Regions from separate parts of the Homo sapiens genome. Here all the other regions are linked to region 2. Evidence: fine-mapped expression QTL. A gene starts in region 2. Each other region holds a variant in brackets. All regions are shown on one strand. Distances are between the middles of the regions.

What was found. PIP is the estimated chance that this variant, and not a neighbour inherited with it, causes the effect. A credible set is the group of variants that fine-mapping cannot tell apart.
Region 1: its variant is the best candidate, but not a certain one, in a credible set for the expression of ADRA2C in cerebellum (GTEx, PIP 0.85).
Region 3: its variant is the best candidate, but not a certain one, in a credible set for the expression of ADRA2C in adrenal gland (GTEx, PIP 0.68).

Annotation. Positions count from the first base shown.
Region 1 is chr4:3,706,577-3,716,545 of GRCh38, reverse strand. No RefSeq gene overlaps it. Among named protein-coding and RNA genes, the nearest start is that of LINC02171, 34 kb to the right of the region's middle. RefSeq lists enhancers at 1,995-2,494, 2,495-2,996. The variant A/G (reference allele first, on the strand shown) is at 3,934.
Region 2 is chr4:3,761,975-3,771,943 of GRCh38, reverse strand. It overlaps ADRA2C (adrenoceptor alpha 2C), which reads right to left and starts at 5,559. Exons shown (of 1, transcript NM_000683.4): 1 at 3,418-5,559. The coding sequence starts at 5,337. The coding sequence ends at 3,949. RefSeq lists enhancers at 401-1,086, 1,087-1,772, 2,459-3,144, 3,337-3,854, 9,887-9,969.
Region 3 is chr4:3,634,439-3,644,407 of GRCh38, reverse strand. LOC112268461 (a long non-coding RNA gene) reads left to right here and starts at 9,050. Exons shown (of 4, transcript XR_002959775.2): 1 at 9,050-9,617; 2 at 9,741-9,963. RefSeq lists an enhancer at 827-1,358 and a silencer at 3,415-3,598. The variant C/T (reference allele first, on the strand shown) is at 4,903.

The DNA of each region.
Region 1 (9,969 bases), 55 kb after region 2:
GCAGCAATTCTCTCCCGCACGGCTCTGGGGGCTACAAGTTTGGAAGCCCCCAGGGAGGATCTTTCCTGCCTGTCCTGGGTTCCCAGCTGCACGGTTCCGTCTCTGCCTCTGTGGTCCCGGGGCCTCCCTGTCTGTGTCGGTGCCACCTCTTCTTCTTCTAGGGACACCTGTCATCGGGGCAAGGGCTGGTCCTCGTCCAGTACAACCTCAATTCTGCAAAGACCCTATTTCCAAATAAGGTCACCCTGTGGGGTTCTGGGTTAGTGCAAGGTTAGCTCCAGGATAGCCAGGCCAGAGAGGCTGAGCCAAAATTAGCCTGCGGGGGACACCCCTGTCTCGTGAACCCCCGGCCACTCTGCTCCATCCCTGCTTCTAACACTGCTGAGCAGGAAACTGTGGCCTCTTGGCCTGGGGCTGACCATCTCCCGTCCCAGAATCTCCAGATCCTTCCTCTACTACCAGACTCTGTCCAAGGGCCCAGCCACCAGGCACAGGAGTGCCTTTCCCAGCATCTACAAGAGGTAGCCTGGCATCAACTCCCCAGGAAGACAGCCCCATGGGCAACGGGAGCTGGAGGGCGTCCTCCCCGTCCTCCTTCTGAGGGGATTGTGCCAGGCATGGCACGTCCTCATCCCATGAGGACGTCTGGCTGCTCCCGGGGACCACGGCTCGCCCGTTAGTCACCTGCGTCGTTTCTGCCTTTCCCTGACTCCCCTCCCTTTTCCTCCCTCTTGCTGCCCTGAAATTGCACCCTTCCCTCCCCAAATAAACCCTTAGCGCTTAATCCATGCCTCAGGCTCTGCTTTCTAGAACTCTTAGCAAAGATGAGTGGCAAGGGCAGGGAGGAGTATTTCAGTCAGAGGGAACAGGCTGTGCGCCCGGTGGGGAGACGCCCTCATGCGATACGGTAGCAGGCCCAGGCATGGGATCAGCTATCCTAGTGAATTCCTGGCTTTGCCATTTCCAAGCTCACCGTGACAGGCTCCCAAGTCTCCCGAGCCCCAGCCCGCTCTGTACAGGAGGGGCAGTGATGCAGTGTCACCACGGTACGCGGTTGCTGGGCTGCTGGAGTGGGTGGATCTGTCAGCAGCGTGGCTCGTGGGGAGGCCTGGCTCCTGGGCCTTGCCCCCACCGGCCCCCAGACCCAGGAACTACAGCACAGGGATGCCCCCCACTGACCCCAGGAAGGGCGGCCTCCAAGGTGAGAAGCCCCGGCGCACCCACCTTTCCCAATACTTCCTCCAGCTTCTATTTGAAAGCCCATGTGTAACTGGAGAGCCTCGTGCGGCATTCGTTTCTCATTTGCACCTGCCAAGGCTGCCCGGAGCCTTTCCTCGTTCTTTCCAGTTGTTTGTTGGCTTGTTTTTGATCAAAGTCAGGAAACTACTTAAAAAAAAAACAAGGCTAGTGAACTGGAAAATGTGGAGTTCAAGTTTGGGTCAAAATAACCAACTCTGAATTCAAGGTAAGCTTATGGCTCCAAGCAATTAGTTCCAACCTGATCACAGCTGTGTGCATTCACACACTGACACACAGAGACACACACACATACACACATCACACATGCACATGCTCACACACACACCCTCCACAGACACGACACACACACATGCACACACACACACAGAGACACATACACACACACACACCCTCCACAGACATGACACACACACAGGCACACACACACAGAGACACATACACATCCACACATCACACGTACACACACACCCTCCACAGACACGACACACACACATGCACACACACACACAGAGACACACACATCCACACATCACACATACACACACACACACACCCTCCACAGACATGACATACACTCACAAACACACATGCACACACACATACAGAGACACATACAGAGATACAGAGACATACACACATCCACGCATCACACACATGCACACACACACCCTTCACAGACATAACATACACCCACACACATGCACACACACACAGAGACACATGCAGAGATACACACACACCCACACATCACACACATGCACACACACACCCTCCACAGACATGACACACACGAACACACATGCACACACACACACAGACACATGCAGATACACACAGAGACACACACACACCCATGCATCACACACATGCACACACACCCTCCACAGACATGGCACACACTCACAAACACACATGCACACACACAGAGAGACACATGCAGACACACACACACATCCACACATCCACACATCGCACATATGCACACACACATACCCTCCACAGACATGACACATGCAAACACACATGCACACACACACAGACACACACATACACCCCACAGACACGACACACACCGAGACTGCTGGACAGGCCCAGGCAGCACAGAATAGGGAAGGAGCTGGGCAGAGCCTGGGGTAGTGCCATGGCAGTCCAAGCAGGGTCTGTGTCCATGGTTTGCTGTGACCCCGGCCTCAGCTCTCACTGCTGGAGCAGTCATTCCTGCCATTTGCTGATCCCAGGGGTGCTGGGGTTTGTGCTGGAGTCACACAGCGTGCCCTTCACTGTGCAGCCAGGGAAACTGAGGCAACACTGCAGAGTGAGGCCCACAGCGGCGGCAGCGGCTCTCAATTTGGGTTTGTGAACGTGGTGGTGAATTTTACGTGTCAACTTGATTGAGCCACAATGTGTCCAGATATTTGGTCCAACATGACTCTGGCGGTGTCTGTGAGGTGCCCCTGGACGGGATTCACATTTGAATGGGCAAACTGAGTCAAGCAGATGGCCCTCGCCAGTGTGGGAGAGCAGATTGGCCTCGGCCAATCAGTTGAAGGCCCAAATAGAGCAGAAAGGCTGAGTAAGGGGAGCTCCTGCTGCCTGACGGCTGAGCTGGTTTTTCGCTGGCCTTCCAGCCTGCACTGAACCATTAGCCCCTCCTGGGTTTAAGTCTCCAGCCTGCCAGCTTCCAGGCTAGAACTGCACCGTTGGCTCTCCCGGGTCTCCAGCTTGCCACCTGCAGATCTCAGGGCTTGTCCACCTCCAGGGTCCAGTGAGCCCATTCCTGACAATCAATCTCTTGCTATCTCTCTATACATATCCGTCCTATTGGTTCTATTTCCTGAGAGCCCTGAATACAGGGAGTGAGGGGCGTGTGGGCTTTGAACCCGGCTCAGTGGGACTTTGCACAGTGATCATTGCAGCCCTGAGATTCCTGGGACACACATACCACACACCAGCCACAGCTCTGGGCACTTGGCTTGTAGCCGCCGCGACACTCGTCTGTAGTTTATAGGGGCACACAGAGGACTGAGGGAACGTGCTGGAAGCCATGCAGATAGCAAGCGACCGAGCCGGGGTTTGAACCTGGGCGGGGGCCAGCTCCAAGGCCTGTACTCTCGACCTCTGCCCCAAGTCTTGTGGCCCCCGTGACCAGGCGACTCTGGCCTTCTGGGCCTGCCCTACTCTAATCGCCTCAGTGGCTGCGCTGGCCCCGCAGTGGCTGTGCTCTCAGAGGCAGCAGCGGGCAGTGCTGCTGGGACCGTCTTGGAACTCCGCTTGGGTGTGGGGACTGGCCGGGGCAGAGGGGGAGGAGTGGGCGGCTGGACAGGATGATGGGAGCAAGGTGAGGGTCACAGGGCCCACAACTGTGAGAGGTCCCGGCTGATGTGCCAGTCAGCATTCTCCACTGAGAAACAGCTGATGGGAGAGAGGTCCATGTTGAGACATGTATTTTAGGGAATCAGCCCACGCAGTTGTGGGGGCTGGCAAGATCCCCCTGCGGATCAGGCTGCAGACCCAGGCAGGGCTTCTCCACCACAGTCTCCAGGCAGAATTCCTGCTTCCTCCACGTAGGCTCAGAGTTTGCTCCGAGGGCCCCAGTGGATTGGATGAGGCTGCCGCAGGCTATGCGGGGCCATCTCCTTTCCTTAAAGTCAGCTGACTGCCAATGTGCGTCAC[A/G]TCGCAAAACACTGGCACAGCAACCTCTAGACATGTGTTGGGATCATGGGGGACCACGGCCTGGCCAGGTTGGCACATACAACCGAGCAGCATGGTTGGGAAGGGACCACAGCAGGCTTGGAATTAGGGGCTCCAAATTCCAGCACCAGCTACCAAGGTTTCTGCAACTTGGAGATTGTTGCGCTAGGTGTGGCCTCAGTTTCCCCATCAGTAAAGGGGGGATCCTGTCCCTCAGTATATTCCATCCTCCCTGTGCTATAGAGAGCAGAGGAGAGAAGACCTAGTCCCTGCCCTGAGTCGAGGGGGGCCTGCTGGATTTTGATGTCTGTGTAGGAGTTTGCTAGGCACCCCAGGGCAAGGATGTGCCCCAGGTGGCCGGGTCATGGGGAGAAGCAGAGGGTGTTGGGGAGGTGGAGGCAGGGTGGGCTGGCTCTGTCCTTCTCCCTGCCACAGGCTCTGGTTTGGGGTGAGGAGGAAGAAGTTTGTTGTCCACAAATATGACCCCGTCATTTCCCAGCTCAGGGACTGCCTATACAGACAACATCCGAAGACCCCAGTATGATTTCTGGGCTGCGTTGGTTAGGGGAGCGCACTGGGCTGAGGCCAGCTGGGACGAGGACCCACAGGGTAGGGACGGGGTAGACAGGGCCAGCCCTGGACAGCCCCGCCCCTGGTGGCCCCAGGATGACCACAGTTGGATGCTTGAGTTCTGGGGTGTCCCCTAAAGCAAAAGCCTCGGTGTTGCCGTCATAGCTCAAAGCAGGTTTGGGGCAACTTTGTGATACTCCTCATGGTACGCCCACCTCACTTCCACCACTGGTGACGTCGAGAGCCAGGTAACGACGCCCCATCCAAGGGCCGTGAGAGGGAGTGGTCTGAAAGCACCAACACCGGGGGCTGGCACAAGGTCTCACTCATTCATTCCTGCATTCATTCATTGAACAAATAGGTCAGAACTCCTGCTGTGGGCCTGGCCCTGCCTGGACTCTGGGGAAACCGGAACAAACAGCCAGCCTCACACATCCCTGCCCGCCGTGTAGCAGACCTTGGGCGGAGGAGCAGGCAGCCTCTGAATAGTCAATCCACGGCCAAGAAGGTCCACAGAGGGCGAAGACGGCCGCACTGGGGACGGGACGGGGCGTCTGTGCGGGTCTCCTTCTCCTCTGCCCGAGGGGTCTGCTCCCACCCTCTTTCTTACCGAGCAAAGCATGCCCAGACCTTGATAAGCTCAAGCCTGCTCCTGACCACGTGGAAGGGAGCAGCTCCACACGGGCCAGTCAAACTCTGCAGACAGCACAGGCTTTGCATGTGGGAGACAGAGCAGCCGGCTCCATCACCAAGTATGTTGCTGATGCTCATTTTCTCGGTTTTTTTTTGCCCAAAATGTCAAATTGCTCTGCTGCGTGCTCCTGATAGAGGCCTGACAGGGCCGTGGGAGAAGCACGGTGGAGGGTGGTGCTAGGAAGACAGGGAGCTCGACGAAGACCCTGGTGGGACCCCTAGGGGATGTGGATCTGGAAGCTTCCTGGCCACCCCAGGAGCTGCAGCTGAGGAGCTGGCAAGGGGGGTTGGGTATGCCATAAGTGACACAGAGCAGGAGCAAGAACAGGCCAGGCTGGCCTCGAGTGACCCTGGACACATGCCCCCTCCAAGCCAGGCCCCACACCTGCAAAATCAGGGTGGGTGGCCATCGCCACCAACACAGCGAACCCGCAGCAGGACCCCCTTCACTCCAGGGTCCCCACTGCCACTCTGTGTCTGAAGGCCCCCCGCAAGGAGGACCAGAACCTTCTGTGTGCCTCCCCGCACACACTGAGTTAGAATTCCACTGGAATGCGGAGCGTGGTCAGGCGTGACCTCCCTCCATGCCTCCTGACAGGAGGCACAGCCTTCTCCCACTCCCCCACCGCGGTGTGCTGGACTAGCAAATTCCAGAGCAGAGAGGCTGTGGCCATGGAAACCTGGCAGACCTCAGATTCCCCGGGACAGGGCAGGAGCAGGGCCGGGAAGGGCCTGGCAAGCCCACTGCGGGGGGTGGGTGGGCAGGATTGTCAGAGGATGGCCACTGTGGCAGAAGCCTCAGAAGATCAGACGCTTCCAGAGTCTGGACGAGCCGCCTTCCCGGCCGGTGCTTCCCGGCTCTCTGCCCCCTGGGTGAGTGTTCTAGGTGGGGCTCCTAGAAGCAGGGATGGGTCCAGTCTGATCCCTCTGGGTGTCCCAAGTGCTGGATACATGGTTACAGGGCAGCAATGTGGGGCCGCTCAGCTCTCTCCTCCAATTCTCTGGAGGAAAGCACCAAAGCAGGCTCAGAGAGGAGAAGCCACGCCCCCAAGGTCACACAGCTTGGACTCTGCGGAGCAGAGATCGTAGTCCTGGTCCTTCTGACTTCCAGGCAGCAGACAGCCCCGAGGCGTCCCAGAAATTAGCGCAAAGTTCTGCAACCGGGTTAGGAAATCATCACCCTGCAAACCCTGGAGCGGGGAACTTGGTTGAATGAAATTCAGGTCAGGAAGGCTGGAGGCCTCCGGGCCTCCTCCCCTGGATGAGCACGCTAGTGCTCCGGACGAGGCTGTGAGTCCGCAAGCCTTCGGTAGAGGATTCTGGCTGCTTCCTTGTGTCTGGGGCGTGAAATCCTGACCATGACCTTCAGGAAGCTCGTCCCCCTGCCAGGAGGGCTCCATTGGCCCTGGCCCAGGTCCTCGGTGGGTTTTCACAGTACCTGCAGCTCCCCTCACCTACTCCATGACAGCCAAAACAACCCCAAACAGAGACCGATTATTAATTTGAGCCCTTCTCACCTCCTGTTACCCCCAAAATGCATCCAGACCTGGGGAGGTTGTGGGAAGGGGCCTCCTTTTCACAGTCCTCCAGGTCCCTCTTAGCACAAAACAGCATTTTGGGGTGCGGCCTTGCTCCTAGACCGTGGTGTGGACAATCAGCCAAGAGTGCAGCACCCCTCCCTGAACAACCCCCATGACGGAGGTGGTCCCGAACACGTCGCTCCTGCTGAATCATCACCCCTAGCCCAGAGCCAGGCACTGCAGGCCTCAGCACTTCCTTGTTGAATAAATATCATGGAAGGAAGCCCTAAGAAGTCAGTGGCAACAGCTCGTATATGTCAGAGCAGGCGTCTCTAGGCTCCCTCCATTTCCGTCCTAGAATTCAATGGCTACCATAACCCCCCATCCCCAGTAGCTGATTCCAGCAGCGAAACCCTTGTAATCCATGTCCCAGTGGGAGTCCCATGCCACACATTCACAGAGGGCTCCCACGGCCAAAGTCTGGATATTAATTAGGATCCAAGAGTGTGACGTGATGAGCAGTTCTGAGGCCTGGATCTTTGCTTTCACCTTTGAATGTGTGAATCATGGAAGTCCGGGCAGCCTGGAGATGTGCTGGCATGCCTGGGACCTGAGCTGGTCTGAGGTGGAGCAGGTGGGTTTCTGATAAATCCTATATGCCTGAATGTGTGAGTGGATGGGTGAGGGGATGTACAGGTGGGTGGGTGGGTAGGTAGCCTGGGGAATGATTGTGCAAGGCTGGGGGAGTGGATTGTGGTTGAATAATTGGATGGATGGATGGATGGATGGATGGGAGGGCCCAACAAGGGGCTGAGAGGCCTGCAGCCCAGCCCGCTGCCACCAGCACTGGCTGAGGTCCTTGGAGGGTGCAGTCCCAGCAGGAGGGTTGGGCATGGCTCTCTGCCGGCTTGGTGTCCTTCTGGGGCACACAGGGATGCTGGAGGCTCCATCCTGGTTTTGAGACCCCAGGGTCAGAGGCTCCAGGTAGCACCTGCGACATCCTGCACTGAGTCTTGCAGAATGGGATGGGATGCAGGTGGTGAGGGGAAACTCTAGTGGGCCGAGTGCTCCAGAGCGAAGGCGGGCTGGGGTATCTGCAAGGGCTGGCCTGTTGGTCCCTCCCTGATGTGAAGCCCTGCGGACCTCCATCCCTTCAGTGCTGGTGGGTTCGTTCACCCCTTCTGCAGTAAATTCAGGGTGGACAGGGGAATATCACCTTCCCCTTTAAAGAAGAGGAACCAAGTCCCAGGAGGGCAGAAAGACTTCTGGGGGCCCTTCCACCCTGCAGAGGCCAGAGGCAGCTCCGGCCCCCTGGCCACCTCCCCGTTCTGTCTCCACGATGGTTTCAGGAGGAAGTGGGCGTCCGCGGAGGCAACCACATGGCCCTTGGCTTGGCTGTCCCCATCACCAGCCCCCAGTCCCCTAGGGCGGGGCCAGGCTCTATTTCGGGAGTGAGAATGGAGAGAGGCGGGGGAACCACAGGCTCCCCAAGGGACTGCTGCCTCACAGGAGTCATCCAAAAAATTCCTGCCATGCAGCCCAGAGCAGATGGAGCCAGTGTGTAGCCAGCAGAGCCCCCAGCGCAGTGGCTGGAGGAGGGAGGGTGCGTGGGCGTGGGGCGGAGAGAGCCTGTACTGGGAGCCAGAGGCCTGGGTACAAAGCCTACAGCTTCAGTGTGCTCTGAGAGAGTAGGCAGAAGTACCTCCCGTAGGCCTCGCTCTTAGCTCCTAAATTGGCTCACGCTGGCCACAGCTCACACTTGAGGCCCCACACCAGGCACTCATCTGCCAGCCACCCCTGCCTGCAGGAACTACCATCGGCCAGGACCTAAGTTGGATGGATCTAATCACCCCATCTCCAGACACGCTGTACTCGCAGCCTCAGCTCTCTGCCCTCTGCTATTCTGCCCGGTATGACCAGAACCACCCTGGACACAACCCTCCGCCACTGGCACATTCTGCTCCCAGACACTCCAGCCTCCTCCAGAACCCCCTCCATGGATATTCCAGATGTGGCGGTCCTGCAGCCTTGGACTCCCTCGGCCCAACACACTGATGAGTGAGTAAGAGTGTAGCTGAGCTTCCAGGTCCTGCAGCCTCCGGGGAATGTCCAGGGTGTGGATAGACACTGGGCCTGAAGCTCCAGGCTGTGGTCAGCGCTGGGATGGAAGGAGGCAGGTGCACAGGGAGCAGAGGCCGGGGACACAGCTGACTGACCCTCTAAGCATGGACAGAGGAGGAGGTGCTGGAAAACAGACGGAGAAGGAAGGGAGGGAGTGGCCAGGAAGCGCTCTGCAGCAGCGACTCAGCGTCCTGCATCTTCATGGCATCCAAGGCCCCATGCCCAGAGGAGTGGCGGCAGAGGAAGCTGGGTATGGCTTGTGGGGTGCAGTCCCCCCATCACTATCTGGGGCCATTTGTGCCAAAACCAATGCACTGCCACAGCCCCTGAGTCCAGCACATCCTCGCACCCTGCGTCCCTGGACTGTGGTCCACCCTAGCCAGCAGCACCCAGAGCTCTCCTAACCAGGCAGGAGCTCCATGTGACAGATGAGGAAACTGAGGCCAGGGCAGGTGGCGCCGACCTCACTCCAGAATAGGCACGGACAGTGGGACCCAGAATGCCCACGGGCACCATGTTGGGAGCTGGATGGGCACTGAGGGTGAGGCTGGACCCCTTTCTGAAGGAGGGACGTGGTGTCTGCTCCTGTACCCCATGGTGGGTGCTCACCATCTCCCCAGCCCACAGTTTACTTGGACAGCCCCACAGTGACCCACTTTCTCCCCGAAATGGGCTGGATCTGCCTCTAGGTGTTTTCTGTCTCGGCCCAGGCTTTCCTAACACCGGCTGGTGCCATCCAAGCCTCCTGCAGGGTCAGCAGATTTGCAAACCACAGGTTTCTCCAATTTCTTTGGAGAAAAAAAAAAGGAAAAAAGAAAGAAGGAAATAATTTTCCAAAGTATTATGTTTCTTCCCAATAAATCAAGGCCACCAGGCCTGGCAATGGCCCCAGACTTGTCGGGCAGCAGAGCTTGGTGACACCCTGGGATGGGCTGGGAGCAACAGAGCTTGGTCACACCCCGAGATGGGCTGGGGAGGTTTGGGTGTCCAGCATGGGGAGTGGCTCCTACCTGGAGCCACTGCCAGGACGGGAGCATCTCCAGAAGCCACCAGGAGGGGATCTGGCCCAGTGAGGTGGGCAGGGAAACTCCTGTCTACCCCCGCACGGATGGCA
Region 2 (9,969 bases):
TAGGATTAAAATACAGGAGTTAATGAAAACATATGCATGTCTATGTATATCTGGTAGGAGCTGCATCTGTGACAGGCTTGGGCCAGGTACACAGGAACCCTGAGCAGGACGGCGTTCGAGCCAGCACCCTCCACACAGGGCAAGCCCTCCTCCGTCGGTAGTGGCTGCTTTATTTTATTTTGCCTGAAATCTCCCAAGAGCCCAACGGGGAGCTCTGCCCAGGAAACCGGTCGTGGAAAACGCTGCTCTGTGGCTTGCTTGGGACGGGGTGAGATCAGAGCCCAGGCTCTCTGCAGAGGGACCTTTCTGAGTCCACAGTTTGCTCTGCCCCCTCACCCCTAGGGGTCCCTGGCCACACAGTCACCTCTAGGCCTCAGTTTCCACAACCACATATGGGGGTTGACATCAGGCCACTCTGGATCCATGAAGTCGGCATGAAGAAGTGAGGCAGGCCCAGGCCTCGTCCGTGGAGAGGAGAGCCACTCAGGAAGTCAGGGGCCGTGGTGGACAGGTCGGCAGAGGGGAGGGCCCTGCTCTGGGCGTTGAGAAGTCCCCTTGGCGGGTGGTTCCTGGGCTGGGTTTGGAGGCACTCGGGGCTCATCTTACCCTCGGGGTGGGTGTCAGTGCCCCCTTCATGGATGAAGACACCAGGACTCAGAGCAAGGTGACACGTGTCCCTGCAGCAGGCAGGGTGAGAAGCCAGGTTTCTGTCTCTGTTTATCCAGCTGAAAAGAAAGTCTCTCCAGGCGGCAACCAAGATCGAGTGGTGAACATCTGCCGGCTGCAGTCCCGGCCATAGCCCTGGAGGGTGTGACTGGCAGGGTCAGGACGGGAAGAGGAGGAAGGTTTGCTGACATTCTTCCCCGAGCGTGTACCAGGCTGCGTGCCCTGCTGTATCCTCGAAGTTAATCTCCCAGGATCCCTGGGTGTGGGGGGGCTGTGGTTATCCCCTTGCAGGGAGGAGGATCTGCAGTTCAGAGGTGACATGCTCAGTCGGCCACACTGCTGAGCAGGTGACAGGGCAGGCTCCAGCCCTGGGAGGTTGCATTTCCTCTGCAGACCTCACAGCCCCCAGGGGGTCAGATCAAAACCTGACACTCTGTCCAAGCACCCTCCCACCAGCTTCTCCCCTGCAGCCTGGCACACGGCCCCTCTGTCCAGCCTCCTGTCTGCATTGTCTCCCCCTCCCCATGCTGGCACCCCATTTCCTAAAACACACTTGCACCTCCTACCTCCAAACCCTTGCTCATCATGCTGTGCCTCCACGTGGGGTCTGCCCTCAGCTGTGGGAAGTTGCCCATTCCTGAAGACCTCCCAGGAGGCAGTAGGAAATGGTGGAGATACTCAAGAAATACTTGTTATCTGGTTGAATTTGGGGCCAGGAAACCTGGGCCCTGTTGGGTCTTATCACCAGCTGTGTGACCTCAGGCAGGTTAATCCACCTCTCTGAGTCCCATGAAATGTACGAGTTATCCCATGAAATGCTGGTGCTCTCAAGGGAAGGGTGCCCTGGGCGGGACTTGGGGTCTTGAGTGCTGGCAGGTGAGGGGTTGGGGGTCTGCCCTCCCGTCTTGCAGTTGTGAGTTTTGGACCCCTCCTGCCGGCTTGGTAAGATGCAGATTCTGGAGCAGAAATCCTGAGCTCTGGAGTCTTTTTCATGTGTGTACAGTGATTCTCTCGCAGCCCAAGGCCTGCCCTCAGAGTGTCCCTGGGTGCGATGTCAGCCATGGAGTCTCTGAGGTGGGGTCTCCTGTGGTCCCAGGCTCAGGGGATAGATTGCCCAACAGATTGGCAGGCCTGGCAGGGCCCAAGAGGGCTCCCAGGACCCCCTCCACTTCCCAGGTGGGGCACCGAGGCCCAGAGAGCAGGGATTTGTCTGAGCCAGTACAACAGCTCCAGGACAAGCTGGGCCAACAGTTCAGGACTCCCTGCCCAGGCCTGGTCGGGGGAGGTCAGGGATGTCCTCATCGGCCTTGACTGGCCATGTTCTCCACCCCTCCCCTGCCCCCACTGCTGTCTGTATCTCCCCACCTGTGTCTGAGACTAGCACACAGCAGGTGTGAGCATTAGCACATGTGCCAGCTGTGGACACGGCTGGGAGAGCTCTTCCCAGCTGGGGTATCCTGAAGACCCATCATCTGGGGTGGAAGCCAGGCAGCTGCGGCGAGGGGGTTCTCCAAGGGCCAACTCTGGCAAGTCAGGTCCCCCTGCTCTGGAACCTGACTTCGCGGACGGGGGCTTGCAGAAGAACACAGGACCCAGGGCTGACCCCTCCCCAGGCAGACCCTGGCCCCCCATGCCAAAGAGAGAGGTGGGTATCCAGGATGGATCTGGGCTGGGCTCAGCAGGCAGGGTCTGGCAGGGGAGGGTACACATAGGGAAGCCCAGGGGGGCCTCCCAGGGATGGGAAGGGGGACGGGAATGGGGAATGGATGGTCACAAGCAGGAGGCCTGACACAGCCCCCACACGCCTACCGAGCTGTCTGTGCGTGTGTGTTGGGGGGACCCCTGCCCAGCTCCTGCCAGGCGCAGGTCCCGCTTTTGCCCCTCCCCTCCAGCCATCCTGGCAACTTCCAGGCCCTGTGACACGGCTGAGTCTGAGTGGTCCCTACACCATGAAGGCCCAGCACCAGGAAGCCCACCTTGGTATTCTGTCCCCCACTTTCCACTGCCCTTCCTCAAGCAGCAGTGTGAACAGTGTGGACACCTGCTGGGCCTGACGGTGGAGCAAGGGGGAAAGGCAGGGCTGCACTGGGAAGACCCTGGGGGCACCACAGGAAACAGGCCGGCCCCAGGCCCCTCTCCAGACATTGCTGGTTTGTTCCACTCCACTGCTCTGGGGCCTCAATGACTTTCAGTTTGTTTCGGAAATAAGAAAGTGCCTGTTGTTCAACCTGGCTCTGGCCAGGCCTCTGGCCTAAGAGTGATGGTGTGGGGGCTTGCCGGCCTCACGCCCACCCTCTCTCCACCCAAGAGCCACGCCCACAAAATGTTCAGAGCCAGGAGGACTAGCTCAAAGCTACTCTCAGTCTTGGACTGGAAGAGCCCCACCTCTTTCCACCGGAGGCCCTGAATATCAGAGTGGGGAAGGGCAGGGGGCAGGGATGGGAATGCAGGGAAGACAGTCCCCCAGAATCTAAACTTGGGGTCAACTTGGGGGTTCTAGGCTCCTTTCACCTCTTCGCTACTCTCAGCACAGGAATTTTGAGTACATATTTTCCATGTACATAAAGGGTTAGCTTGAGAAAAAGCAAGACCCCTCCTTCTCATGCAAGAAGGAAGTTGTAACCCGGAGGCCCAGGGTGCCCTCCGTCCAGCATTGTGGGGTGGGGGAGATGGGGGAGGGTGTCAGGCAGGGTGAGGGTCTGGAAGATACCCCCAGCCCCCAAGCTCAAGGACTGACTGCGGCACCCAACATTAGATTACAAAGGTTTATTTAGAAAATAGTTTGGTTGTTTTGGCTGTTGTTTTTGGCAAACATTTAAATACTTTCAGTAATCAAAGATTGTCGGTGCTTTCTCCTTGCCCCCTGGCAGCCACCCCCCGACTAGGTCCTGGAGAAGTCAGCCCTTGGTCAGACGGGGATGGGGAGTGGTAGTGTCTTTGGGGGGCTCCTTGCTTGCCCATTTAGGGGGCTACCTCTGCCACTGCTCTCTAAAACCCTGACCTCACAGCCACACCTCGGCAGGGCTCCCAGAGCTGGATCCAGGCAGGGAGCCCCAGAAGCAGCCCCTTGCTGAGGGGGGAAGGCAAAGGGGTCTCCCCCTCTCTCCTCCCCACTCCCTGGAGCCCGGCTATCTCTCTGCCAAGCTCCTGCCCTGCCGCACCCTCCCCTGCGCCCTGGAGGCCAATCCATCCCCGGGTCTCTGGGAAAGCTCCCCCGTCCGGGCCGCCCCTTCTGCCCAGCCCCGAGCGCGGAGCTGTCCAGGATTCCCAGACGGGTGCGAGTCACTGCCTGAAGCCCCTTCTCCTCCGTCGGAAGAGGATGTGCTTAAAGGATCGCCGGAAATCCTGGTTGAAGACCGTGTAGATGACCGGGTTGAGCGAGCTGTTGCAGTAGCCGATCCAGAAGAAGAACTTGAAGAGCGGGCCGGGCACCTGGCAGGCCTCGCGGCAGATGCCGTACAGGCTGTAGCTGAAGAAGAAGGGGAACCAGCAGAGCACGAACACGCCCATGACCACAGCCAGCACAAAGGTGAAGCGCTTCTCGCGCGCCTGGGCCACCTTGCGGCGGCACACGCTGCTGCGCGCCCGGCGCCGGCGCGACAGGAAGAACTCGACGGAGCGCGAGCTGGCGCGCGACAGGCGGCCACCGGGCCCCGGGGACCTGGAGGCGGTCAGCGCCCCCGACTCAGCCGCCCCCGGCCCCGCCCCCTGCCCGTCCGCACCGCCCGCGCCCCCCTCCGCGCCCGCTCGCCGCCGCCCGCCCCGCCGCAACGCGCCCCGGCGCCGCCGCCTCTCGGCCGCTGCGCTGCTCTCGTCCGGCTCCACGTCGGCGGGCGGGGGCGCGCAGTGCCCGTTCTCGCCTGCGCCTGCCGCCGCGCCCAGCCCGTTTTCGGTAGTCGGGGACGCACCGTCGGGGCCCACGGGGGCGCGCTTCTCGCTGAGCGTGCGCGTGCGCAGCTTGGCCACTCGGTAGATGCGCGCGTAGACCAGGCCCATGATGAGGCAGGGCGCGAAGAAGGAGCCGATGCAGGAGGACAGGATGTACCAGGTCTCGTCGTTGAGGCCGCACTGCGGGTAGGCGGCGCCGTCGGGCTGGCGGTAGAGCGAGACCAGCGGCGGGAAGGAGATGACGGCCGAGATGAGCCACACGGCCACGATGGTGGCCTTGACGCGGCGTGGTGTGCGCTTCAGGTTGTACTCGACGGCCTGCGTCACCGACCAGTAGCGGTCCAGGCTGATGGCACACAGATGCACGATCGACGAGGTGCAAAACAGCACATCGAGCGCCAGGTACACGCCGCACCACACCTGCCCGAAGTACCAGTAGGCCATGAGCTCGTTGGCCAACGAGAAGGGCATGACCAGCGTGGCCACCAGGATGTCGGCCGAGGCCAGCGACACCAGGAAGAGGTTCTGTGGCGCGCGCAGCGCCCGGCTGGTCAGCACGGCGATCACCACCAGCACGTTGCCCACCACGGTGAAGACGATGAGGAAGCCCACCACGGCAGCCAGCCCTGCCACCGCGCCCGCCGAGTACTGGCCGCGCGGCGGCCCCCAGGAAGCCCCCGAGGCATTGGCAACCCCGCCGCTGCCCCTCTCGCCCGCGCCGCTCGCATTGGGGCCCGCCGCTGCCGCCACCGCCAGCGCCGCCGCCAGCGCCGGGGACGCCATGGTCCTCCCGCGAGCTACGCCGTCCCTCCTGGAGCCGGGGCGCAGCCGCGGCAGCTCGGGCGCCCCCCAGCCGGGGTCGGCGCCCGCATCGCCGCCTGCTGCTCGGGCGCGCCCGCCGGGGACCGCGGCGCCCAGCAGCCGGCCCTCGGCCGTGGTGGCTCCGCGGGCGGCGCGCCGGAGAGCGTGGCTGCCGGGCTCCCCGCAGCTGCCGAGCGTGTAAGTGCAGAGCAGGAGGCGCCCGGAGCGAGCGGCGACGCGGCTGCGGGGGGAGGGGGGCAGGTCCCGGGGTCCTCGCGCGGCCCCGCCCTCGGCCCGGCTCACGGGGAGCGCCCCGGCGTCGAGCCCACGGCGACGCGGCGCCCGAGCGGGCGTGCCTGAGCGGCCCCGCGGTCCCGGAGCCCAGCCGGGGCGCAGGCGACAGGCGGCGGCGGCCCGGGCGCTCCGCCTCCCATCCGGCCGGCTAGGGCTCGGCGCGCCGGGGCGCCGGCCGCCGCTCCTCCGGGCCCCCGCGCCCGCGCGCTCCCTCCGTCTCCAACTTTACTTTCCCGGGCGGGGCGCCGGCGCCGCCGCGAGTCCTCCGGCTGCTCCCGGGCGCGGGCGCCCCCCGCGGTCCACGCTTGGCCGTGCGGCCGCCGCCTCGCTCGCCGGAGCTGCGCCGCCGCCGCCGCCGCCGCCCTGCGCTGGGCGCGAGTGCGGCCGCCTGCGATCGGCTTCCAACTTGGGTCGAGTTGCGCAGCGGGGCGGGCGCGCGGGGCGGGGCGGGCCGCGGGCCCTGGGGAGCTGGCCGGGAACCGGAGCCCGCGGCCGCCTGGTCGAACCTGCCCGCGCGGCGCCGGGGAGGAGTCCGGGGCGGCGGCGCGGGGCGCGCGCTCGGCGAGGGCGCCCCCTCCAGGGCCGCCTGCAGCCTGCGGGACGGGGCCGAGCGGCGGCCGGCCTGGGTGGTGAGTTCCAGAAGCTGCTCTTTCTAAGACTGGAGCCTCCTTCGCCTCCCCCGGCGCAGGCATGGGCGCAGGCGGGGGCGCGCACACGCGCGCGCGCAGCACGGGCGGCTCGGGGTCCATGGCCTGATGGCAGAGCAACCTCTCGCAGCCTGGGGGAGGACGCGACGCTACCTGCGTGCGCACAGGTCCTGCCGAGCTCAGGGTCCGGACCAGATCCTGGATCGGCGCTCCCCGTCAGAGCCACCTCCGCACCCACCCCGGCCTCAGTTCCCTCGGCCCACTTCCCAGCGCTGCTGGAGCATGAATCATAACTAACGGCGGTGTCTGTGGAAGCCCTGGGCAAGCTCCCAAGCTCTGCACCCATGTTAGCAGTGATTGAAGTTTAATCCTTAGGCTCTCAGGCCCTGCTTTTAAAGGATGGAGAGGTGTTCAAAGTCACCACCTCTGACAAACACCCAGAACGGAGCTGCCTGGATGATGGAGCTTTTTGCAAGGGTGGGCTCAGGGGAGAGCGGCCGTTGAGGTAGCCCCCGTGCACCCTCGCCCCCGTCCGCGCACCTCCATTCTGCAGATGTGCACTGCCACGTGCACTGCCACTCTGTGGCCCATGTTGGGTGCTGGCTTCTGCCTCCAGGCAGCCTGGGGTCTGTGGGAGAGGGACTTCCAGGGACGAGGTGATCCAGGAGGAGAGCTGGAGTTCTCAGGCCTGACGTTTCTCTGCTAGGACCGAAGGGACGACCCTTCTCCCAAACGTCCAGAAACGAACCCCAGCTGGCTGGCCTCTCCCTGCATGGGCCCGCAGGAGAGAGGGAGGGAAGGTCTGTCCATCCTGTGGCTAGAACCGGCGGGGAAGGGGCGCTTCTGAGTGCCCGGGAGGTCATCATGAAGAGCGGCTGGAGTGACTGCCCTACCCCCGGGATGCCTATCCATGCCCGTGGCCTGGGGCAGCTTCTCTCTGAGCTCCTGAAGGGCGCCAGCTTTAGCCTCAGAGCCTGTCGTGTTCTCTGCTGCTCAGCCCTACTGGGGAGCATGTCTGTCTCCGCAGAGACACTGCCAGGAGCTACGGCTTCGTTCTTCACCATGTTTGTCACCAGCAGGGCCTGCATTGGGGGTGTGGAGGCCGAGCCAGGGCCCGGCAGAAAGCAAATATTTCAGATGATGGGCCTGCCAAGCAGGGGCGCACGTTGGAGCCAAAGCCTTCTGTGCCAGTCCTGTGCTAGTCTAGGGCACATATGCCCTTCGGGGAGGCAACAGGCCATGGCTGTCCTGTGGGAGGTGTGTGACCTGGGGATGGTGGAGGGTCACCATCCTTACTAAAGGCCCTCCTGGTTCTGGTTGCCTAAAAGGTGCCACCTGTCCAGGGCACCTGGAGGTGCATTTTTCAGGGAAGCCCACACACACCTGCTTCCTTCATGGTCGGCCCGCTGGAGCCCTTGTCTCTATTGAGCCCTCTGCGATGGCAGAGAGTGAGGGGGGCCTGGCCTCAGTTGAGGTGCTCACCATCTGTGGGTGGATGGGGCCACCCACTGAGGTGAATGCGCTGACAACCATCAGTGCCCTGGGGCTCCTCCCCCAGCCTGGGAGCGGGGTTGTCAAGGAAGCCTTCCTGGAGGAGGTGACCAAACTGTGCTTAGAGAGTGAGGAGGTGTTATGAGGAAGGGGGAGGCCTCTGTAGGCTGTCCTTCTTCCAGTGGGAGTGGGCTTTGTACTGGGGGCGTGGGGAGACAGGAGGACTAGGAAAGAGCAGTGGCAGGGGCCAGATGCAGGCTTTGGAGAAGGTCTCTCTCCCTCGGCATCAGCGTGCCTCCCACCCCCATCCTGAAGGGCTCTCTTTTTGAGAAGTGCTTTGGGGGATGCGCAGGGGCATGGGGATCTATCTAGGATCCTGGCTCCTATGTTCCCAAGAGATGGCAGCCCAGGCACGGGAATTTGGAGGGAAAAGGACACGGAGCACCTGGGGCCCTGAGCCAGATGAGCCTCCCACTGCCCAGGAGGGCTGAAGGCAGGGGCCACTCACAGGCCAGGCTGAGGGCATCTGGAGTGCCTGGCCAGTGAGCGGCCCAGGCCCTTGGGGATGGCAGCCAACAGGCTGACATGCTGCTGGCAACACCTCCTGGCATGACCAGGGAGGGGTCAGAAGGGTCCACTCCAGGGCCTGGATGGAGCCAAGGGCAAAAAGCTGGGGCCTGGAGTCATTAGGAGGAGCGAAGCCCTGGGCCATGCATAGGGGTTGCATTGCACGCAGGCCTGCCTGTGGTGGGAGGGCCCGGGACCGCAGCTGTTTGCAAGGAAGCTGGAGAGGACTCTTCCCCCAGACCTTGAAATTAGGCTTGAGGAACTGCTCCGGATTGTCCGTAACAAGCAGAACAGCACGTACCCAGCAAGACTTCCTGTCCTGACGAGGCACGACGCGAGCTGGCACGACCAGGAGGGGCGAGGAAGGAGGGTGCTGGGGGAGTCAGGCTGCACTGGCGGGGGTTGTGGGGGCTGTCTGTGTGTACGTGTGCAGGGGAGTACATGGCAGAAGTGGGCATATTTCAGAGGGGAAACCTACAGGTGTTTCCTAGAACTGAGAACCTAGAAGTGGCACGTCCTGGAGCTGCAGAGGCGAACCTGCCTGTATCTCACCCATGATGCGTGGGGCCTAGGAGGACAGGGTTGGTCCAGCAGGGCCATACAGCCATGGGACATTGGGCCCTGGCTGCTGTGCCGGAGAGAGCTGGGTGCCTGCCTGGGATGCCGCGCTCTAGGCTTCGTGAGCAGCCTCAGCTCGGGTGGAGGGGAGTTTGGCTCCTTGAGCCCCCTCCCTGCACATGCAGGCATGCATGCACATACGCAGATGTACAGTGTCCACACACATATATGTATCCACACACATCCTTGTGCACACATAGATCCATGCACACACATGAATATACATATCATGAATACACGTGTGTTCATGCAAGCATGAACACCCATACATACACATATCCACACATGCATGCAAGCATGCAACCTATTCATGCACACTTGCATGCCTTCACACACACATGCATGCACACATCCACACACACACTGTCTACATATACCATGTGGATTTACAGTGCATCCATGCCTACAGAATATACACACATGTATGCACACATACATGTTCCCACACATGCACACATGCCTGCGTGTGCATACACATGCCCGTGTACTCTTCACATGCAGGTGCATATATACATATGCACTATCATACACACGTGCTTTTTGCACACGTATGTCTACACATGCATATGTATCACACTGGCATATGTAGAAATGATGCACCCATGCTGTGCACACACCTGTGCATACTGCGGGCACGCACAGCCTTCCCTGTGCAGATAACACGAATCCATGCACATTGCACACACGTGTGTATGCCTGTGCTGCACACATCTGTCCCTATGCATGACACCAGTCATGCATGTGCACACATGGCTTCGCATATATGGATGTGTACACACATATGCGGCACCTGTGGCCTTGCCCACCCTCCTAGGCTGAGGAGAAGATGTATTTCTGGGTTGCTGCTGCAGCCAGCTCTTCCGGGGCTGCGGCTGGGTTCTGCCTCGCCTGCCTGGTCTGCACAGCTCCACCTGGCTCCTGCGGTCAGCCCTCCTCTCCACGCTGTGAGCTGTGAGGACATTTCTCATTAACTCTTGTGGACCCTGGGCCTGACCAT
Region 3 (9,969 bases), 130 kb after region 2:
GTGGGAGAGAGTATCTGGGAAATCAACCCCAGAGGAGCATCCAGAATATCACAGAGAGGCACCTGGTCGGACTCCACAGGGCACAGGATGCCCACCAGCTTGGCCTGGCCCATCCTGGGGCATCCCACCCAGCCTGGGCTGACCCTCGATCCCAGTCCCGGAGCTGCCTTAACGAAGACCCACAAACTGGGAACTCAAACAACAGGAATGTTTTCTCTCCCTGTTCTGGAGGCCGAAGTCCCAGATCAAGGTGTCGGCCTGACGGTGCTGCCCCTGGGGGCTCCGCGGGAGGCTCCTTCCTCTTCCTGCCTCTTCCAGCTTCTGTCGCTGTCTCCACATGGCCTCCGTCCCTGTGTGCGTCTCCCCTCGTTTCTGATAAGGAACATGTCCCTGGATTTCGGGCCCATCCACGATGGCCTTACCTCAAGATCCTTCACTTTATAGCAGCTGCAGAGATGGCTTTTCCAAATAAAGTCGCATCCGCAGGATCTGGGGCTGGGGATGTGCTCATATCATTGAGGGCCATCATTCAACCCCTCCAAGCCCCTAGGTCTCCTCGGGCGGCCGAGCTTCCCCAGCACCCGCCACCTGGAGTGTCCTCCCAGAAATGTCAGAGTCTCTCCCCTGAGGGGCTCCCCCATCCCACCTGCACAAGGTCCACCCAATCCCACTTAGGGCCAGGGGTTGAACTTCGTCCAGGAGTGGCCTCCCACTCTGGTGGGGCAGGATGTGTTCCCGCCCCAGCCCAAGGTGTGCCAAGGCCTCACCTCCCCATGACAAACGCCCAGCAAAGAGGCAGTGAGTGTGGCATGGGGGTAGGCCACTCAGCTCTGCTCCTGCCCAACTGTGCAACCTTAAGCAAGTGCCTGCACCTCTCTGAGCCTCGGTCTGTCCCTCTGTGGAATGGTATGACCAGAGCAGTTCACCCACCTCCAAGGTGTCAGCCTGTCTGTGAGTCAAACAAGGCCAGAGTGCCTGGCAGCCGGGCACCTCACTCAGTCCACAGCTGTTGTGATTAACCTGTACTGCATCCAGGGGACAGGCCTCCCAGGGCAGTGGGGAAACCCACACCCCATACACAAATCAGCCCCATGCCCCAGCAACAGAGCAGGTCACAGGGAGGGGCAGGGGCTGGGCAGGCCGCCCCAGGACCCCCACATCCTTGCTGAGCCTAGAGGAGGAGGAAGAGGGCATTTCCTGTGACAGCGTGGGGGTGGGGGAGGTGGGGAGAAGCCTCCAGGCAGAGAAAGGTCACCTGGCATCGCATCCAGAGACCATGTGCCCTGGGCCTCCTCCGGCTTGTGGGGAATTTCAGCCCTCACCCTCAGGGCAGTGGAGAGCCAGGACAGCCGATGGGCTTCCAGCTGCTGGAGGGGTGCAGAGGAACCGCCCTGCACATGTCCCAGCAGGAGACCACCCGGCCTGAAGGACGGGCTGCCAGGCCTGGCTGTGTCATCTGGAGAAACCAGGCCTGGAATGCTCCAGCCTCGTCCGGCAGGCAGGGGTGACTAAAGACTGTACCTGTCCCGCCTGCCTGCACAGGGTGGTTTTTATCTGGAGAAAGCACTTGGCCCCATGCAGACACACTCAGTACCCCCCGTCCCCACACTGATGTCCTTCCCTTAACACGGGCCTGGAACCCGCAGAGGGTCCAGCCAGCTCCGGAACTAAACTAATATGGAGAAACCCCCCAACCCGAAGGACAGAGACCAAATAAACCTTCGGAGGAGGATAGAAGAAGGTGGCAATGGCGCTTCTGTGGGGCAGCCTGGAAAGTAATCCTCTCTCCCAGGCACACGGCATCCTGACGGTGGGACAAGAAGAAGATGCCTGGAGAAGAGCACAGAGCACGTGAGAGCCCCGGAAACCCGCGCAGAGCACGCGAGAGTCCTGGAAACCAACCCACACAGAGCACGCGAGAGCCCCGCACACCCGCGCAGAGCACGCGAGAGTCCTGGAAACCGACTCACAGAGCACGTGAGAGCCCCGGAAACCCGCGCAGAGCACGCGAGAGTCCCGGAAACCAACCCACACAGAGCATGCGAGAGCCCCGCACACCCGCGCAGAGCACGCGAGAGTCCTGGAAACCGACCCACGCAGAGCAAGCGAGAGCCCCGGAAACGGACCAACGCGGAGCAAGTGAGAGCCCCGGAAATCGACCAACGCAGAGCACGCGGGAGTCCCAGGAAACCGACCTGCGCAGAGCACGCCAGAGTCCCCGAAACCCGCGCAGAGCACGCGGTAGTCCTGGAAACCGACCCGCGCAGAGCACGCGAGAGCCCCGGAAACCGACCAACGCGGAGCACGCGAGAGCCCCGGAAACCGACCCGCACGAAGCACGCGGGAGCCACCGCTTCATTCCACGCACCACCCACTTGCTGGGCGTCTTCAGAGTTCTAAAAACCCAAGAAAGAAAAAGATTGGAAGAGGAGGTGAAGATGTCCCAGAAAGTGGAATAAAAATGTACCGAGATAAAGCGCAGAGACAAAGGCAAGACCCGAGCACTACAGTGAGGCCCAGCTGCCGGGGAGAAGATTTGTAGAAAGTTCCAGAGTGGGAAAAAATGGAAGGGAAAATGGAAGGTGCCCAAGCACCATTTAGGAGAACACTTCCCAAAGCTCAGGCCAAGCAAGTCCATCTGGATGCCTTGGAGTCCCTCGCCCTGGGCAGGGGGCCCACGTTTAGCCTTCTCCTGGTACTGTTTTCATAAACGAGGCTCGGCCACTTCCCGTCCGGCAAAGCAAAGCCCGCGCACCACAAAGGACGGGAGCACAAAGGCATAGATTTTCTCTTCCTTATGACTTTCTTTTCTCTCTCTCGCTCTTTTTTTTTTTTTTTTTTTTTGTGTGTGTGTGTGTGACGAGGTATCACTCTGTCACCCAGGCTGGAGTGTGGTGGTGCAATCTTGGTTCACTGCAGCCTCCGCCTCCCAGGCTCAAACGATCCTCCCACCTCAGCCTCCTCAGTAGCCAGGACTGCAGGCACATGCCACCACAACCAGCCAATTTTTGTATTTTTAGTAGAGATGGCGTTTCACCATGTTGCCCAGAGTGGTCTCAAACTCCTGAGCTCAAGCCATCCACCTGCCTCGGCCTCCCAAAGTGCTGGGATTACAGGTGTGAGCCACTGTGCCTGGCCTTTTTGATTTTCTTAACATTTTCTCTTCTCCAGCTTACTTTATTGTAAGAACACAGAATATAATACATGTAACAGACAAAATATGTGTTCATCAACTGTGCATGTTAACGGTGAGGCTTCCGGTCTGCTGGTGGCTATTAGTGGTTATGTCTGAAGGGAGTCCAGAGTTACATGCAGACTTCTTACTGCTTAGAAGGTGGGTCCCCCTAACACATACACACATGGACACACACACACCTGGTTTTGTTTCACTGGAGAACCTGACATACATAGAAAATAAGCAAATGAGAGATGGGCAATTCGCTCCAGGAAAACAAGATCAGGAAAGAAAGGGACGGAGCATCGCACAGTAGAACAGCTGAGTCTTCTCTGAGCCAGGCAGGTCTAAGCAGCCCATGCTCCTTGGGGAGCCCTTGGCCAGCCTCCTCGTCCCCACGGACGGCTTTGTCCCTGGGGGAGCCACGTGTGGGTGACTCAGGAACAGCAGCTGAGTCACCGTCACGGTCCCAGACCGCCCCCTCTCTGCCCCTCTCTGCTGTTTCCAGGGCCTCTTCCCTCCCATTCCTCCACATGACGTTCTCAGCGTTGGCCGCCCTAGCGTCTGCCCCAGGCTAACTGATTTGACCCCATGGCTTTGAGACTCCCGGCTCGTCCCTGGTCCACCCTCTTTCCATCTTGTCTCTCTCCTGTGCCTTCTTCCCGTCCACCCTCCTTCCAGAGCTGAATCTCCCGGGGGTCCTCCACCTGGAGCCCCGTGCCCACAAACCTCAGCTTTCCTGATCCCGCCTGAGCCCCTCTTCCCTCCCAGGCCCTTTTGCTCCTCCACAGCCTGCTCTCCTGGGGCCTGGCCTCCTCCTTCTCCCTCCCACTCAACTTCTTAGCCACATCTTGCCAGCCCCTCCCTCCTCCCACCCCATGCCATCAGTCGCAAGCCCCCAGGTGCCCCCTAAGCCACTCCTCACCCGCTGTCTTCCAGCCTCTTCCCTGAGCACTGGCACCCTTCGGAAGGAGCTGAGCTCTTGCTTCCGGCCCCTCCTGTACTCCTCATCCCCCACAGTCCTAGGCTTTGAGTCTAACCACATCAGCATCTGCTCTAGAACCTTACTGAGCTCCCCGTGACCCGCCAACCACCACCCAGAGGCCTGCATTCCAGGCCTCCCACGATAAACTCCGTTTGCTACCAAAGCCTATACCCGACTCTGCACTTAGCAAAGCTGCATCACCTATGGAAAACGTTCTGAAAATACCCCAGATGTTCTTACCTCTGACTCGGTCACTCACCTTCCCTGGCTCACCTGTGCCATCCATCCTAGACCAAGGCGAGGCTTCCCATGGGCTTCCCGAGGAGCCCTAGATCCTCGTGGACTAACTGCACAGCCAGCAGTAGCCGGAGCGGTGCTGCTGGTCAGACAGACCTGGCTGGAATCCTGGCTCCACTGCTTTCTGGCTGCATGTCAAGGTGCAAGTCACTGTGCCTCTCTCTGGACCTGTTTCTTCATCTTTAAAGTCAGGGAAAAATTTCACAGCACCTCGAGGTGGTTGTGAAAATTCAATAAAATAAATAATATATGCCCCCCACCTATTGCAGAGGCCGGGATGGGGCCAGTGTTTATATCCCAACCTCACAATTTGGCACTGAACATGGACATCCCAGGCAGCTGGGCCCCGTGTGAGCATCCTGACTCCCCAGGCAGGCTGCAGACTCAGAGCAAACACTGTGCCTTCCTTTGATCTGTTCACCCCTTGGGCCTTCATACAGCCCGA[C/T]GCCCGGCAGAACCACCAGAGACTGAGTAAGGGAACAGTTGGGAAGTGTTTGTTCCTCTTTAATTTTCTGGAAGAGTATCTCTGGAATTGGCATTCTTTCTTCCTTCGATGTTTGCTATGATGCACTATTGCAGCCCTCTGGACCCAGAAGTTGCCTTATGGAAAAGTGTTTAACTAAGAATGCAATGTCTCTAATACCAGCATGGCTATTCAGGGTCTCTGTTTCTTCCAACGTGAGCTTTGGTAGTCTGTGTCTTTCAGCGTATTTGTCCATTTCATCTAAGCTGTCAAATGTACTGGCCTAAGGTTATTGACAGTATTCCCTTGTTATCACGGAAGCACCTGTGGAGTCTGTGGTGGTATCATGTCTCTTGTTCCTGATAGTGAAGCTTTACATCTTCTTTCTTTTTTTCCTGACCACTACAGCTAGAGGTTTATGAATTTTATTGATATTCCAAAGAACCATCTTTGGGTTTCATTCATTTTCTCTGTTGTTTTTGTTTTCCATTTCACTGATTTCCACTCTTATCTTTATTATTCCGTTTCTTCTAGTTATATTGGGTTCAATTTGCCCTTCTTTCTTCCGGTTTTGTGATGTGGGAGTTGAGTTCATTGATGTGAGACCTGCCTTCTTTCCTAATACAAGCATTTGAATGCTATACAACTCCCACCAAATACTGCTTCAGCTGCATCCCATAAATGTTGATATATTGTTCAGTTAGAAACACATTCTAATTTTCCCTTTGATTTCGTCTTTGACTCAAGAGTTCTGTGGAAATGTGTTAGCTGTTTTCCAAATATCTGGGGATTTTCCAGATGTCTTTCTGCTGCTGCTATTGATTTGTAAGTTAGTTCCACTGTGGTCAGAGAAGATATTTCAAATGATTCAAGTCCTTTTAAATTATTAAGTCTTGTTTTATGACTCAAAATATGACCTGTCATGGCAAATGTTCTGTGTGTGCTTGAAACGAAGTGTTCTGCTGATGTCAGGGTAGGGTTTCCATAAACGTCACTTAGGTCAAGATGGTGGATGGAGTTCAAGTCTTCTATATCCTTGCCAGTTTTATGTCTACTTGAGTCAACTTTTGAAAGATGAGTGTTGAAATCTCCAATTATAATTGTAAACTTCCATCTTGCTTTGTAGTTGTTTCGACTTGGAAGGTCTGCTAGAAGGTGCATAAACTTTGAGGATGTTATGTCCCTCAATGAACTGACCTCCATGGCGTCATGAAGTGACCCCTTCATCCCTGCGGCCATTCTTACTCTGAAGTCTACTTAGGGAGTAACATCTCCACTCCAGCTTTCTTTTGATGAGTGATTGCATGTATGTCTTTTTCCATTCTTTCAGGTTTATCCTATTTTGCCTGCATATTTAAAGTTTTTTATGCCTATCATATTTTGGTTCTTTCTTTTTCTTTATCTGGCAAACTCTGCCTTTAAATTGAAGTGTTTAGAACATTTATATTTAATTATTAATGATCACTTTTAAAACTGTCGTCTTGCTGTTTTTTCCCCCTTTTTTGGGTTCCTGTTTCCTCTTTTTCCACCTTCTTCTGAATTCATTGGGAATGTATTACGGGTCTATTTCATGTCCTTTGCTGGCCTGGCCACGGCATCCCGCATTGAAGCCTGGACATTCTCTGCAGGCAGTGAGCTGGGGAGGCGCTGGCTCGCAGAACGGGTTTCCTGTCTCTTAGCAATTGCGCTCCTTGGCTGAACTGCAGCCAATGTCATGAACGCCATGTTTCATTTGTTCTCTCTGGAGCTTTGGCTGTTTTTTATTGCTCCCTGTTATACCATTTTGGCTGGAATTGGAAATCTCTGAAAATCTCTTTAAAATTGAGTCCATTGGAGCCAGCGTCTCTTTGCTTGCAACCAAAGACTTGGAACTGAGCCTCCCCCTGCTGTCCGAATCCTGTCCACCCCGCCGCGGCCTGGCATCTCCGCCTCTCCTTCAGGTCTCCCTTCAGACACCAGCTCCTCCAGAGCCTCCTGGCCCCAACGCCTGCCTTAGATGCCTCACCCATCCCGGCCCCTCCCCACCGTGCCTCCGTTGTCTGCCTCCTGTTGACCTCCCCCACCAGACTTGGGATTCCTTGAGCATGGGGACTGCCCCATTGCCTCACACTGTGCCTGGCACATAGTGAGTGCCCAGCTGGCTTGTGTTCACCAAATAATCAGTGATTTTCACTTCTCCTACCCATGAGATCCCAAGCCTTTCCTGTCTGGAAAGAACAAGGCACACTGGGGAGAGCTTACCTGCTGAACCCTGGCCCCCACCTCACCAGCTTCAGAGGCAGGAGTGCAGAGTGGGTAAGACCGAAGACCAGGGTCAGCGCCTGGGTTTGAAGCCTGTCCTGAACAGGTCTCAGCCTTGTGGCCTGGGGCGAGGTCCTCGCCTCTCTCATCTGATGTTCCTCCGTGACTGGTAACAGTGGTCATCGCCTTAGTCCTCTGGAAGACCAACCAGTGCCTGCCCAGGGTTGGCAAGTGCTGGACGGATACATGCTGTCACTGCTGTCCTTCCATCACCACCCCATGATGCAGGGTACTGTGCTGGGCACACCAGGGAAGAACACAGACAAAAGTCTCTGCCCCACGGAGACAGCCCACACACAGGAAACCAGGCAAGTGAGTCACACAGCACATCAGGAGGTGGTCATGCTATGGGGGGAGATATCAACATGGAGCAGGGGGCAGGAGCAAGAGGAAGAGGTGCAGCAGGGGCAACATTGAGCCCGGTGGGTGGCGTGGGCCTCCTTTGAGATGGGACTTGGAGCACGAACTCCAAGGAGGTGGCCATTATCAGACTTGCATTTCAGAGCAATTGCCCAGCTGCTCGTGGAGAAGGTGTTGAGATGGATGGGGTTGGGGGACTGTCCCCAGTGAGATGCAGATCAAGGGGTGGTACTGACCACATTGTCAGGACAGAGGCAGCCATCGGGAGGACTGTGAGACTGTGTAGTATATATGTGGCCCTGTCCCTGTTTCCCAGCATACAACTCCTAAAGCCCTTGACTCTCTGGAGTGGTGAGAGTGTCTTCTGTGTGCTCATGAGCTGGCTGGGGGCTGGGGTCTCCTAGACAGCTTCAGGATGGAGCTGGTCACCCAGAAAGACCAGGCATGATTAGAGGATTAGGACTTCCAGCCCCACCCCTTGACCTCTAGGAAGGGGAGATGGGAGGGGCTGAAGGTTGAGTTGATTGCCAATGGCCAATGATGCAATCAATCAGGCTAGGAAGGGGAGATAGGAGGGGCTGAAGGTTGAGTTGATTGCCAACGGCCAATGATGCAATCAATCAGGCTAGGAAGGGGAGATGGGAGGGGCTGAAGGTTGAGTTGATTGCCAACGGCCAATAATGCAATCAATCAGGCTAGGAAGGGGAGATGGGAGGGGCTGAAGGTTGAGTTGATTGCCAATGGCCAATGATGCAATCAATCAGGCTGAGTAATGGAGCCTCCATAAAACCCAAAGGACTGGCTCAGGGAGCTCCTGGAAAGCTGAACACACAGAAGTGCCTGGAGGGAGTGCCCAGGACGGCATGGAAGCTCCATGCCCCTCCCCAACACTTCACCCTACGCATCTCTTCATCTCTATCCTTCACAGTGTTCTTTAGAATAAACCAGTAAACATGCATAAAGTGTTTCCCTGAGTTCTGTGAGCTGTTCTAGCAAATTAAACCCAAGGCGGGGGTCGTGGGAACCCTGACTTAGAACCAGCTGGTCAGAAGCACAGGCTATGCCGGGACTTGCCATCAGCCTCTAACGTGGGGGCCATCTTGCAGGACTCAGCCCTCATTGTGGGCTCTCACGTCACTCCAGGTGGGACCAGCATCTGAAGGGCGGGGCCATCTTGCGGGACTGAGTCCTCACTGTGGGTTCTCACGTCACTCCAGGTGGGACCAGCATCTGAAGGGGGCGGGGGCTGTCTTGCGGGATTGAGCCCTCACTGTGGGCTCTGAGGCTCACCCTGGGTGGACGGCATCAGGTTGGAGTTGAATAGAGGACCCCCGGCTGCTGTCCACTGCAGGACCACTTGCTGGTGGGGAGAAACGCACATGTTTTGGTGATCAGTCAGCTGTGTTGACTGAGGATGGGAGGAACCGTTTGGTTTGTCCCTGTGTTTTACAAAGGCTGATGTCACTGCACCGACGGACGGGCCTAGAGTGGTGAGGGGAGAGGCCTGGTGGTTTCCCGCTGCTCCCGCCCTTCGCCCTGCCTCCCTCGCTCCCTGCTTCTCAGCACTCCCCACCTCCATGATGGTTTTGAGGCCCTGGGCCTCAAGTTTGTTTTGCTTCAGCCCAAGGTAAACATGCCTGTTTAATTTATGGAGAAACATCTGCAGAGTCCAGTTTTATGGCTTGTTCTTTGAAACGATCACTTCGGATACATAAAAAATGAGGTCAGTAACATTGAGTCCCAAAGCAAAGAGCCGGCCTTTCCGGGCTCACCACGTAGCTTCCTCCCCGGCCCTGCTCATGGCCCTGCCTGGCTGTCTCCTCTGCCTGGAGGCCTCTCACTCACCTTTAGGGTGGGCTCCTGGCAGGGCAGGGTGGCCTGAGGGGCCTTAGGGAGGATTTAGGGGTGAACACCCAAGATCCCGGGTCCATGAGATTCCTGGAGCCAGGAGAAGGTGGCTTCACCACTCAATTCAGTCATAGGGACCAGCCAGGCCCAGTCCCACAGATGAGGAGTCCTGGAGGGTCCTAGGCCTGGTAAGGGTGGTCCTGGTTCTACAGGGGGTCCCCTGGAGAGTCCCGTGAGTACTTGGGGGAGATCCCCTGGTGGGCAAAGCAGCCCACGAGGGAAGCACCTCAGCCACACCCCTCCCTGGTCAGCTCAGGTCCTCAGGAAGCAGATGCTGAGCGGACCTGGGGCATGCGACAGGTGACAGTAATGCCCAGAAGAGATGGGGCGTCAGGAGTCACCCGACTGGCCTGAAAATCTGATGGCACCTCCAGCGCCACGGCGAGCTCTGGGGCCAGGGCCACCTGCTGCAGGGACCACGGGTTGAGTGGCAACATCCAGGCCCCAGCCACTTGCATCTCAGCCACTGGAAAGGTAGGG